Regions from separate parts of the Homo sapiens genome. Here region 1 is linked to region 2. Evidence: fine-mapped expression QTL. A gene starts in region 2. The other region holds a variant in brackets. All regions are shown on one strand. Distances are from middle to middle.

The links. PIP is the estimated chance that this variant, and not a neighbour inherited with it, causes the effect. A credible set is the group of variants that fine-mapping cannot tell apart.
Region 1: its variant is the best candidate, but not a certain one, in a credible set for the expression of RPP38 in skeletal muscle (GTEx, PIP 0.65).

What each region holds. Positions count from the first base shown.
Region 1 is chr10:15,133,620-15,138,992 of GRCh38, reverse strand. NMT2 (N-myristoyltransferase 2) reads left to right here. Exons shown (of 12, transcript NM_004808.3): 3 at 3,575-3,719. It overlaps LOC107984210 (a long non-coding RNA gene), which reads right to left and starts at 3,575. Exons shown (of 2, transcript XR_007062067.1): 1 at 1-3,575. The variant A/G (reference allele first, on the strand shown) is at 2,996.
Region 2 is chr10:15,094,598-15,099,970 of GRCh38, reverse strand. It overlaps RPP38 (ribonuclease P/MRP subunit p38), which reads right to left and starts at 2,616. Exons shown (of 3, transcript NM_183005.5): 1 at 2,205-2,616. It overlaps RPP38-DT (RPP38 divergent transcript), which reads left to right and starts at 2,652. Exons shown (of 2, transcript NR_160789.1): 1 at 2,652-2,884; 2 at 3,106-4,586. RefSeq lists enhancers at 1,909-2,048, 2,109-2,198, 2,500-3,071 and a silencer at 2,339-2,698.

The sequences.
Region 1 (5,373 bases), 39 kb before region 2:
GGGTCTGCATTTCCCAGCCCACTGACTCAAACGTTAATCTCCTTTGGCAACACCCTCACAGACACACCCAGGACCAATACTTTGTATCCTTCAATCCAATCAAGTTGACACTCAGTAGTAACCATCACAGTAGGGAATTTCTTTTCTTAATTTGGAGGAAGTCAGTATTGTCTTAAGATGGGCTTTTTTCTGCTGCATTTTTAAAATCTGGGGCTCTTTCCCTTTAAGCTTATGCCAACTCTAGATAGCACTGTAAATTACAGTGGACTGCATTGCAGAATATTCTGGTCTACATACAAGAACCAAAATAAAAATGATATTTGGATTCTTATAAACTTCTTAGTGTTATAAAACTTGGACATTTTTTCCAAGGTACTATTAAATTTGGAAAACAATGGGTAAAGAGTATAGTTGCTGGTTAGTATGCCACAGAAAGCATGTGTGGAAGAAAAAGAGAATATACCTGCCTCTTATATAGGAGTGGAATCGTGGGAAGTTAATGTCGGGTAGATATTCATCTCACCTTGCCTGATGCACACTCATTCTTCCCAGGTAGTGCTACTATGGAAGGTGAATGGACAGGCATGAGAAATGATCATAGCTGAGTTTCCCTTACTGCTTTGTCCCTGTGGATTTGGAAATTGTGTTTATTTGAATCTACTTTCAGAAAGCATTTAAATAGAGCCGTATGTGGTTGTTCATGCCTGTAATCACCACATTTTGGGAGGCCAAGGCGGGCAGATCACTTGATGTCAGGAGTTCAAGACCAGGCTGGCCGACATGGTGAAACCCTGTCTCTACTAAAAATACAAAAATTAGCCAGGCGTGGTGGCACAAGCCTGTAATCCCAGCTACTCAGGAAACTGAGGCAGGAGAATCACTTGAACCCAGGAGGCGGAGGTCACAGTGAGCCATGATCATGCCATTGCATTCCAGCCTGGGCGACAGAGTGAGACTCTGCCTCAAAATGAAAAAAAAAAAAAAAAAAGAAGAAGAAGAAGAAAGAAAGCATTTAAATAGTGAACATTGGGATATCAATGTTTCGCAAAGGGACATTTCATGTAGAGGTGTGCTGGTCAACCCATGAGCTAATTAGGTAGGGAATAAATCACTCTGAAGTCTTCTTCATGGAGTTGGTCATTTTGGTCATTGGGTCATGTGGAACAAAGATGCTGATTCATGTCTGTTGCAAAATAGTTTGAGTTTGATATATTACTGTTAGAAGATTTAACTCAGAAACCAGGAAAGAAATCAAGGAACAAAAAATTAAATCAAGAAAGAAAAAGTACCATGACAAATTCATTATAGTCATTGTAGTTCTATTTTTATAAGACTGGGCTCTACTTTGCCATTTTAAGCTAAACTGATGCACAGTTAAGCATTATTAGTTGAAATATGCTGTGATCTCAATTCCTATTTAAATTGTAAGGTCTTCTAATAGATGGTGTTGTTGGAGTTCAGATACACATGAATTTCATTTTGCTAGAAATTTGCTCCTTTTAATGTTGGGGACTTAAAAGACACCCAAGGAAAAGAAGTCATCCAAAGATATAATAATGAGAACCGGAAAAGTATTTTGTTAAATTTGTATGTGTCATTAAGATAGGACCTTTATGATTTTGATGTTAAACAAATGTAAGATAAACAGCTTACAAAAACTGTGGCCATCTTGGATTGTGCTGTGAGACTTCCAAGCAGAGACAAAAAGACTTTCACCTGCCTCCAGCTGGACTTCAGAACTTCGTTTCCTTAGGGTTCTTGACAGTGTTTGTATGAAACAAACCCTGTTCTGTGCTGTGTACGATGAGTAAGCTTCCCAAGTTAAAATTATTGCTCCACACCACAGATTTCAGATTCCAAGTGGAACAGAAGTCCAAAGTTGCTGTTTATAAACTTCTAAGGGTCGATTGTACCTTTCAATGGTGTCCACCCTGTGTTGACATACAGCAAAACCGAAGGGCTCTTGAAACTTCTAACCACTTTCTGAATTACAGCGAAGAATATTCTTTGCATGGTATCAAAGTTCTACAATGTCTCAGTAATTTTACATATTGAAAAAAGTCATTGATTTCCATATTCAGTCCTCTGCGCTGTCTTCTCATTTCAAGTAGTCTCATGTTCCATGTATTATTACGTTATTTGAGGAATTAAAAAAAAAAAAAAAAGAACTGGGGAATCTCCAAGAGCTGGCGGGAATATTGGCTTTGAGAAAGGAACCTTAGAATTCAAACGTAATGTTTTACCTAAAAAGGAGTCCAGTTTCCAACACTTGGGCTGGGAACGACAGGCTATGGTTGCCCAGGATCTGAAGTACAGAGGAAATTGCTTGTCCTTCTGGTGGGAGAGTTTGTCTCTAGAGGATCAGGAGGATCAGGAGGGTCAGGAGAAGGGCAGGGTGTGGCCGGGAGGAAGGGGCATGGTTAGAGATTTCTTTTCTTGATCATTTTCATCCCAGTTCAGCACTGAGTTCAGATTTCCCTTCCTTCCTTCCTTCCTTCCATCTGTCCTTCCTTCCTCCTTTCCTCCCTCTCTCCCTCCCTCCTCCCCCTGTCCCTCTCCTTCCTCCTTCCTCCCTCTCCCTCTCTGTCTCTCCCCCCTACCTTCCTTCCTTCCTTCCTCCCTCGCTCCCTCCCTCCTTTTTTCTTTTCTTTTCTTTCTCTCTGTCTCTCTCCCTTTCTCTTTCTCTCTCCTTCTCTCTCTCTCCCTCCTTTCCCTTCCCTTCCCTTCCCTTTCCCTTCCCTTCCCTTCCTTTCCCTTTCCCTTTCCCTTTCCTGACAGAGTCTTGCTCTTGTCACCCAGGCTGGAGTGCAATGGCGCGATCTCAGCTCACTGCAACCTCCACCTCCCAGGTTCAAGCGATTCTCCCTCCTCAGCCTCCCGAGTAGCTGGGATTACCTGCCATCATGCCTGGCTAATTTTTGTATTGTTGTAAAGACAAGGTTTCACCGTGTTGGCCAGGCTGGTCTCTTAACTCCTGACCTCACGTGATCTGCCC[A/G]CCTCGGCCTCCCAAAGTGCTGGGATTATAGGCGTGAGACACCACTGCCGATCCTCTCTCTTTCTTTCTCTCTCTCTTTCTCTTTCTTTGTTTTCTCTCTCTCTCTTCTTTCCCTCCCCTCCCCTTCCCTTCCCTTCTCTGCTGTGTTTCCATTCTAGAAGTTCTTTCCTTCATCCCCTCGTTGCTCCTGCAGAGCATTTACTCTGACAGTGCCCCCCACCCAAGGCTCGTGGCTGCCTGGCTGTTGGATGACAGTAATGCATGCACTGCACGTCTCCCCCAGAGGAGTAATGCCGGGGACCATTTGTAGATGGATGGGAAACTGAAGCAAAGCGTGCTTCAATTTAGATTCCCCAAACTGCCAGAGCCCCAATAAAACTAGACAACTGTTGTTACCTTTAACAGAGGGTTTGCTTCTATTTTCATGTGTAACACACAAGCCCATGGCCTTGACTGGGCTTGGAGGAGGATTGTTAGTGTTTAGGTATTGTAGTCTCTGAGGCAGATGCACGTGCGTCTGCTCAAGTTTAACATCAGCAGCCGCTCTCTCATATTCTGTGTCTGTCTTTGCTGTCGTAGAATCCCAGTGTTCCAATGCAGAAGTTGCAGGATATCCAGAGAGCAATGGAGCTGCTATCCGCATGCCAGGGCCCAGCCAGGAACATTGATGAGGCTGCAAAGCACAGATACCAGTTTTGGGACACACAACCGGTACCAAAACTAGGTAAGTTTTTCTGCTTTTCTCTTTTTTTCCCCACAAACAAAGCTGGATGAACAACAACAACAACAACAACAACAACAACAAAACACAAAGAGTGTTAACTTCACATGTATCATTTATTTCATACCACAGATTGGAAATCTATGCAAGACTAATATTTTTCTTCTGAAAATATAAATATTAGATAGTGACATTGGCTTTTGATAACCATTATTTTAGTCCAATTTCTATCCCAATAAAAACATCCAATTTCCCCACACTTGAAACATTACTAGTATTATTATTATTTTTGAGATAGGGTCTCACTCTATCACCCAGGCTGGAGTGCAGTGGCATGATCATAGCTCACTGCAGCCTCCACCTCCTGGGCTCAAGTGATCCATCCTCCCATGTCAGCCTCCCATGTATCTGGGACCACAAGTGCACACCACCACACCTGGCTAATTTTTGTATTTTTTTGTAAAGACGCTGTTTCAGTATGTTGCTTGGGCTGGTCTCGAACTCCTGGGCTCAAGTGATCCACCTGCCTTGGCCTCCCAAAGTGCTGGGTTACAGGTGTGAGCCACCGCACCTAGCCCATTAGAGTATTAAAAATGTATATAAGGTTCTGTGATGGAAGGACCAGGCCCTGAAGGTCCCTCATGGAGCAGGTGTCTGTTGAGTGTCTGTTATTAAATGCCAGGCATAGTCCAGGGCACACACCTGGAAACAGTGGTGGAAAAGTAGGACAAAAGGTGGCCAGGCTGGGGAGGAGCGGCCACACTGAGGTAGAGAAAGGCTTTAGTTAAGCAACAGATGCTGGGAGAAAGTGACGTGTGATGCGTAAGCTTCTGTCGGGAATTCCAAGGGGCCCGTCCCTTGAGGACCAGAGGGCCTCAAGCCTAAGGAAGGCACCAGGAAGGCCCTGAGCTGAGGCCTGCCCCGGTCATCATGGCCAGAGCACTGGGAGCAGGGGGCAGGGAGGGTGTGGAGAGGGGCCGAGGCAGGCAGCAGCCATGGGGAAGAGCCTGGGTTTTAGTCCTACCATGTTGGGAAGCTCTGCAGAGAAGGACTTGGAAAACTCTTCTTGGTGGAAATCACTAGAAATTGTGATGGCCTGAACTACGCTGCTAGCAGTTTAGATGGGGAGAAGTAACCAGCCTTGAAATTATTTTTAGGTTTTGCTGGGAGGGGCAGAGGTCACCGCAGCCCTTTCCTCTCCCAGTTTGTGGAAATGCAGTAAAAAGAACACACCTCCCAAGGCTGTTGAATGAAACCTACATTGCTTATGACAGTGTGTAAGATAAGGCTGCATTGTAGGCCTTGAGACTCGGAATCACTGTTGTTTTGTAATGTCATCTTTGTCACTGGATGACAAAGGATTTCTCCTTTCATTTAATTGGCAAAATAGGCCAGCTGTGGTGGCTCACACCTACAATCCCAGCACTTTGGGAGGCTGAGGTGGGAGGATCACTTGAACCCAGGAGTTTGAGATCAGCTTGGGCAACATAATGAGACTCCGTCTCTACAAAAAAAATTTACAATTAGCCGGGCACTGTGTTGTACAACTCTAGTCCCAGCTACCTGGGAGGCTGAGGAGAGAGGATCGCTTGAGCCCAGGAGTTGAAGGCTTCAGTGAGCCATGATTGCACCACTGCACTCCAGCCTTGGCGACAGA
Region 2 (5,373 bases):
GCAAACTCTTTTTACTAGACAGTCTTGCCCTGTCACCTGGCAGTAGTGCAGTCGTTCGATCATGGCTCACTGCAGCCTTGAACTTCTGGGTTCAAGCAATCCTCCCACCTCAGCCTCATGCTGAATAGCTGGGATTATAGGCGCATACCACCAAGCCCAGAAAATTTTTTTAATTTTTAAATTTTCTGTATAGGCTGGGCACGGTGGCTCACACCTGTAATCCCAGCACTTTGGGAGGACAAGCTGGACAGATCACTTGAGGTCAGGAGTTCGAGACCAGCCTGGCAAATATGGTGAAACCCAGTCTCTACTAAAAATACAAAAATTAGCCAGGAGTGCTGGTGCACACCTGTAATCCCAGCTACTTAGGTGGGTGGCTGAGGTAGGGGAATTGCTTGAACCCAGAAGGCGGAGGCTGCAATGAGCCGTAATTGCACCACTGTGCTCCAGCCTGGGCAATGGAGTAAGACTCCGTCTTAAAAAAAAAAAAAAAAGAAATTCTATAGAGACAAGGTCTTGCTTTGTTGCCTGGGCTGGTCTTCAACTCCTAGGCTCAGGCAATCCCGTAGCCTCGGCCTCCCCAAAAGTACTGGGATTGAGGGCATGAGCTACCATGCCCCGCCTAAACTCTAATGTGACATAAAAGGCCCTCCACACTCCAGCTCAATCTCCCACTTAGGCCCTCTTTCTCCTTAGGCCCCACCAAGCACAAGTCCTCAACACCGAACAACATACTATTTAATGAGGCCAGCATTTTCCCACCTGCAAGTCTTTATACACATTAGTCCCTCTGCCTGGAATACCACTCCCACCCTCAGCCGCAGGCCCCTTCCTTTCTTCAACAAATATTTATCGATTATCCACGATGTGCCAGGCCATAAAGATTAAGTATTTTTTCTCACAGACCTCATGAGCTTAGAGTCCACGAGGAAAAAATATTAGCAAGTAATTATACAATAAAGCCTGATGCACATGAAGGTCAGGGAACAGTATGCTTAGGGAACATCCAGCAGAGGCCTAGCTTAGTTGAGGGGGGTGGGAAAAGGCAGTCCTCACAGAGGAACTTTTTTTTTTTTTTTTTTTTTTGAGACGGAGTCTCATTCTGTCGCCAGGCTGAAGTGCAGTGGCACAATCTCGGCTCACTGCATCCTCCGCCTCCAGGGTTCAAGCGATTCTCCTGCCTCAGACTCCCGAGTAGCTGGGACTACAGGCACGGGCCATCACGCCCGGCTAATTCTTGTATTTTTAGTAGAGACGGGGTTTCACCATGTTGGCCAGGATGGTCTCGATCTCCTGACTTTGTGATCCGCCCGCCTCGGCCTCCCAAAGTGCTGGGACTACAGGCGTGAGCCACCGCGCCGGGCCGGACCTCTTAACCTACATCTAAACAATGCCTACCAAAGGAAGTATGGAGTAAAGAAAGGTATCTCAGTATTAAAAGAAATAAGTTGGCTGGCGAGGTGGCTCACGCCTGTAATCCCAGCACTTTGGGAAGCCCAGGCGGGCGGATCACTTGAGGTCAGTAGATCGAGACTAGCCTGACCAACGTGGTGACCCGTCTCTACTAAAAATACGAAAATTAGCCGGGCGTGGTGGCAGGCGCCTGTAGTCCCAGCTACTCGGGAGGCTGAGGCAGGAGAATCGCTTGAACCCGGCAGGCGGAGGTTGCAGTGAGCCGGAATCGCGCCACTGCACTCCAGCCTGGGCGACTGCTATGTCTCAAAAAAAAAAAAAAAAAAAAAAACACGTTCAAATAAGTTCAATGTGGCTGGGGCAGAGATGCTAGAGAAAGCGGTGAGAAACTAGGAAAGGTGGGTAAGGACCAGATAATGAAGACCTTTGCAAGCGTTCCAGTGTGAAGCAACTTTAACATCTAAAGCAGAGGTGTCGTGATTAGAAAGACGTTATAGATCTTTGTGGATCTGGGCAAAGGAAGAGTCCCCGAGCAGCAAAGACGCTCCTGGAGTCGTCCAGGTTAGAAATGACGGTGGCCTGCACTAGAGACGCCGCAGAAAGGACTGGAGAAAAATACATGTTAGTCGGAAAAGAAGGTAGAATCTCCCGACACAGTAGTGACCAGCTGGAAGTAAAGTTGAGAACGGTATTGGTGGTGACTCCCGGTTTCTGGATCCCGCCGGTAGCCGAGGGGCGACGGCCGACCCAAAGCTCACCTCCCCACTGCACGCCGCCCCTGGATCGAGTACCTTGGTGCTTTACTATTTAGCACACGGAAGTGTTGTTCTGTTGTCCGTGTCTCCTTGGAGACCGTGGAGAACAGAAGGGCCGGCGGGGGTTTTCGCTTTGTACTCCTGGTGCCCAGCCGGCGCTGCAATCCAGCAGAGGAGCCGGACTAGAAACGCGGAAGCTCTGGGTGCACGCGCCCGGCCCGGGACTGGGCGGCCCAACCGGGAGGGCGGCGGGTCCTGCGGCCACGCAACAGGCGTTGGGGAAGCAGCAGAGACCCTGCGTGCGCGCGGGCTTCGGCCTCCAGATTCCGCAGAGTCCCGGGCCCGATCCCCCCGGGGCTGGCCTCCTGCCCTACGTGGGCCCCGCGCGCCCACCTGGAACTCACGATGGCGAATCCGTGGTCACCTGAAGGCAACAGCACCGGCGCCCAGTGCGCCTGCGCCGCGCGTGCGCAGAGCCCTCGCCTCCCGGCCTCGCCTCGCAGACGCGACGGGCCGGGGAGGAAGCGCTCGGAGCAGTGCAGGTTTCGTTATCCTGTGTTAGGTCACTCCGGAGAGGGGAAAGCGGCCCACAGCGTCGCGCGACCCGGAAACGACACAACGAGGCCCAATCTTTTAGACTCGAGTTTAGGCCCCGGGGTGGAGTCTCCGGACCGGGTCCCCCCACCCCCGCTACAGGGGCAGTGCGCAGGCGCGAGGTATGTATCGCGAGACCATGCGGTTGCCCGGGTAACCAGACGCTCAGGACTTGGACCGTCCAGTTGTTCGGAGGCCAGCCTATAGCCAATGGTATCCCGAGGGCTCGCTCTCTCCGGGCGTTTGTGCTCCCCTCTCTCTTCTAACCCAGTTTCTACCTTTCAGTGCTTTGGAATCTTAGCCCTCTGTCTCTATTCGCTTTTCTGTATTTGCCTTGCCTCAGGGACGCACAACCCCAGCCCCTGTCCCAGTGAGCCCGTCGCCATGGAATCCCTGCAGACTCCCCAGCACCGCGAAAATCAAGATAAAAGGGAGAAGGAGTATGGGGTAAAACACATGCCTATGGGCAATAATGCAGGGAATCTTGAGCCCGAAAAGAGAAAGGCAGTAAGAGTTGCCTTGAGTTCAGCAACAGCTGCACAGAATATCCCGTCCAGTGTCCACTGTGGCTGCTCCAAGCAATGGAGACTCAGGCTACCATCGGAGTCGCTGCAAAGTCGGGGACAAGTGATGAAGCGGCCGAATAACATTTTAAAGCTCAGGAATCTGGATCTGTTGATCTACCCTTGGCCAGAACTTAGAAGACGGCAGGTTGCTTCTGACCTAATGAGCCTCCTCCTTCTCCCCGCTTTTTCCGGCCTTACTTGGGCCCCCTTCCTTTTCCTCTTTACGTATCTGCCTCCTTTTCTCAATCTCCTCACTGTTGGTTTTGTATCCTATTTTCTGGTATAGTTTCTGTGATTTCTTTCTTTTATTTATTATTATTATTGTTGTTGAGACAGAGTTTTGCCCTTGTTGCCCAGGCTGGAGTGCAATGGCGCGAACCTGGCTCACTCCAGCCAGCGCCTCACAGGTTCAGGTGATTCTCCTGCCTCAGCCTCCGGAGTAGCTGGGGTTACAGGCACGGGCCACCAGCCCAGCTAATTTTTGTATTTTTAGTACAGACGGTGTTTCACCATGTTAGTCAGGCTGGTCTCGAACTCCTGACCTCAGGTGATCCGCCCACCTCGGCCTTCCAAAGTGCTGGGATTACAGGCATGAGCTACTGTGCCCAGCCTCTATGATTTCAATTTTCATGTTTAAGTACCTATGTAGAACCTAACTGTCCATAAGTAAACACAACAAAAAAAAGATTTGGCTTTTGGTCAAAGATCATTGGAGGTTACACAGGGTAAAGTGCAGTATGATTTTTATCACAATTAGAAAGATTAAAAAGAGATGACAGTGAGTTTGTGAGAACAGGTTTGTGTTTCATAAAATGAATTGTGTGAGTTAGCTATGATGAACTGCAAGCAGCTTGCATTTCCAAAGACAAATAGAGACACAGGAATCTAATTAAAATGCTAAAGTAATGGGAAGGAGACATCCATACGTTTTTGTCCCCCTAAGGTTCCAGATTTATAGTTTGAGCATCATCTCGGCTTACATTTTCTCTGTGGAAAACATCAGCCATTACATTACTTGGCTCTGGGTTGAAATCCTAACTTCATCAACTGAAGATCTTATGACCTAGGCAAGTTTATTAACCTCCTCTATGACGTGATAAAAATAGTATCTCTTGTGCGGATTAGAAGACATGTTCCTCTATGCTAAGATGATTATTATGTGCGGAACACATAGTTAAGTGCTTGATAAATTGAACTATGGCAAATCCAGTCTCAACCGTGGCAAAACTAAGTTAATAAAAATGAAACATAACCTTTATTATTTTAGTGCTTGTGTTTTATTTTAAAACTAGCAGTATAATTTCCACGAGGATTTTGCTAAAATTAACAAGTACATTTCGAAAGTAATTTCTGTCCCTCTTGTATCACACAAACATTACAACCAAAAAGTAAAAAACATTCTCCCATGACCCAATCACACCCATTTTTTTCTTTAGTGTTCCCTTCTACTTTGTTTCACATATGTGCATGCTTTTACATTAAACTAATACAGATTAAGTCTTCTGATTTTCTTTACACATAACGCTTTTTCATGTTTCTCAAATTATTACTTTACATATTTGATATCCTATTCTGAAGAAACGGTTTTTTTTTTTTGGAGACAGGGTCTTGCTCTGTTGCCCAGGCTAAAGTGCAGTGGCACCATCTCAGCTCACTGCAACCTCCTCCCAAGCTCAAGTGATCCTCCCACCTCAGCCTCCTGAGTAGCTGGGACTACAGGAGCATGCCACCATGCCTGGCTAATTTTTGTACTTTTTGTAGAGACGGGGTCTTGCCATGTTGCTCAGGCTGGTCTCAAACTCCTGGGCTCAAGTAATGCTCCTACCTTGGCCTCCCAGAGTGCTGGGATTACAGATGTGCACCACCACACCTGCCAGTTTTACTTTTTAATGACAGTTGTTTTATCCTGTAAAATCTGTTTGGTCTTTGTATATTAGAGCTTTCTTTTTATATTAATTCTAGAATTGGACTACTGTTTGATTTGTATGCTTTCCATTATTTGACAATGACTTAAGATTCTGAGTGATGGCCGGCTGTGGTGGCTC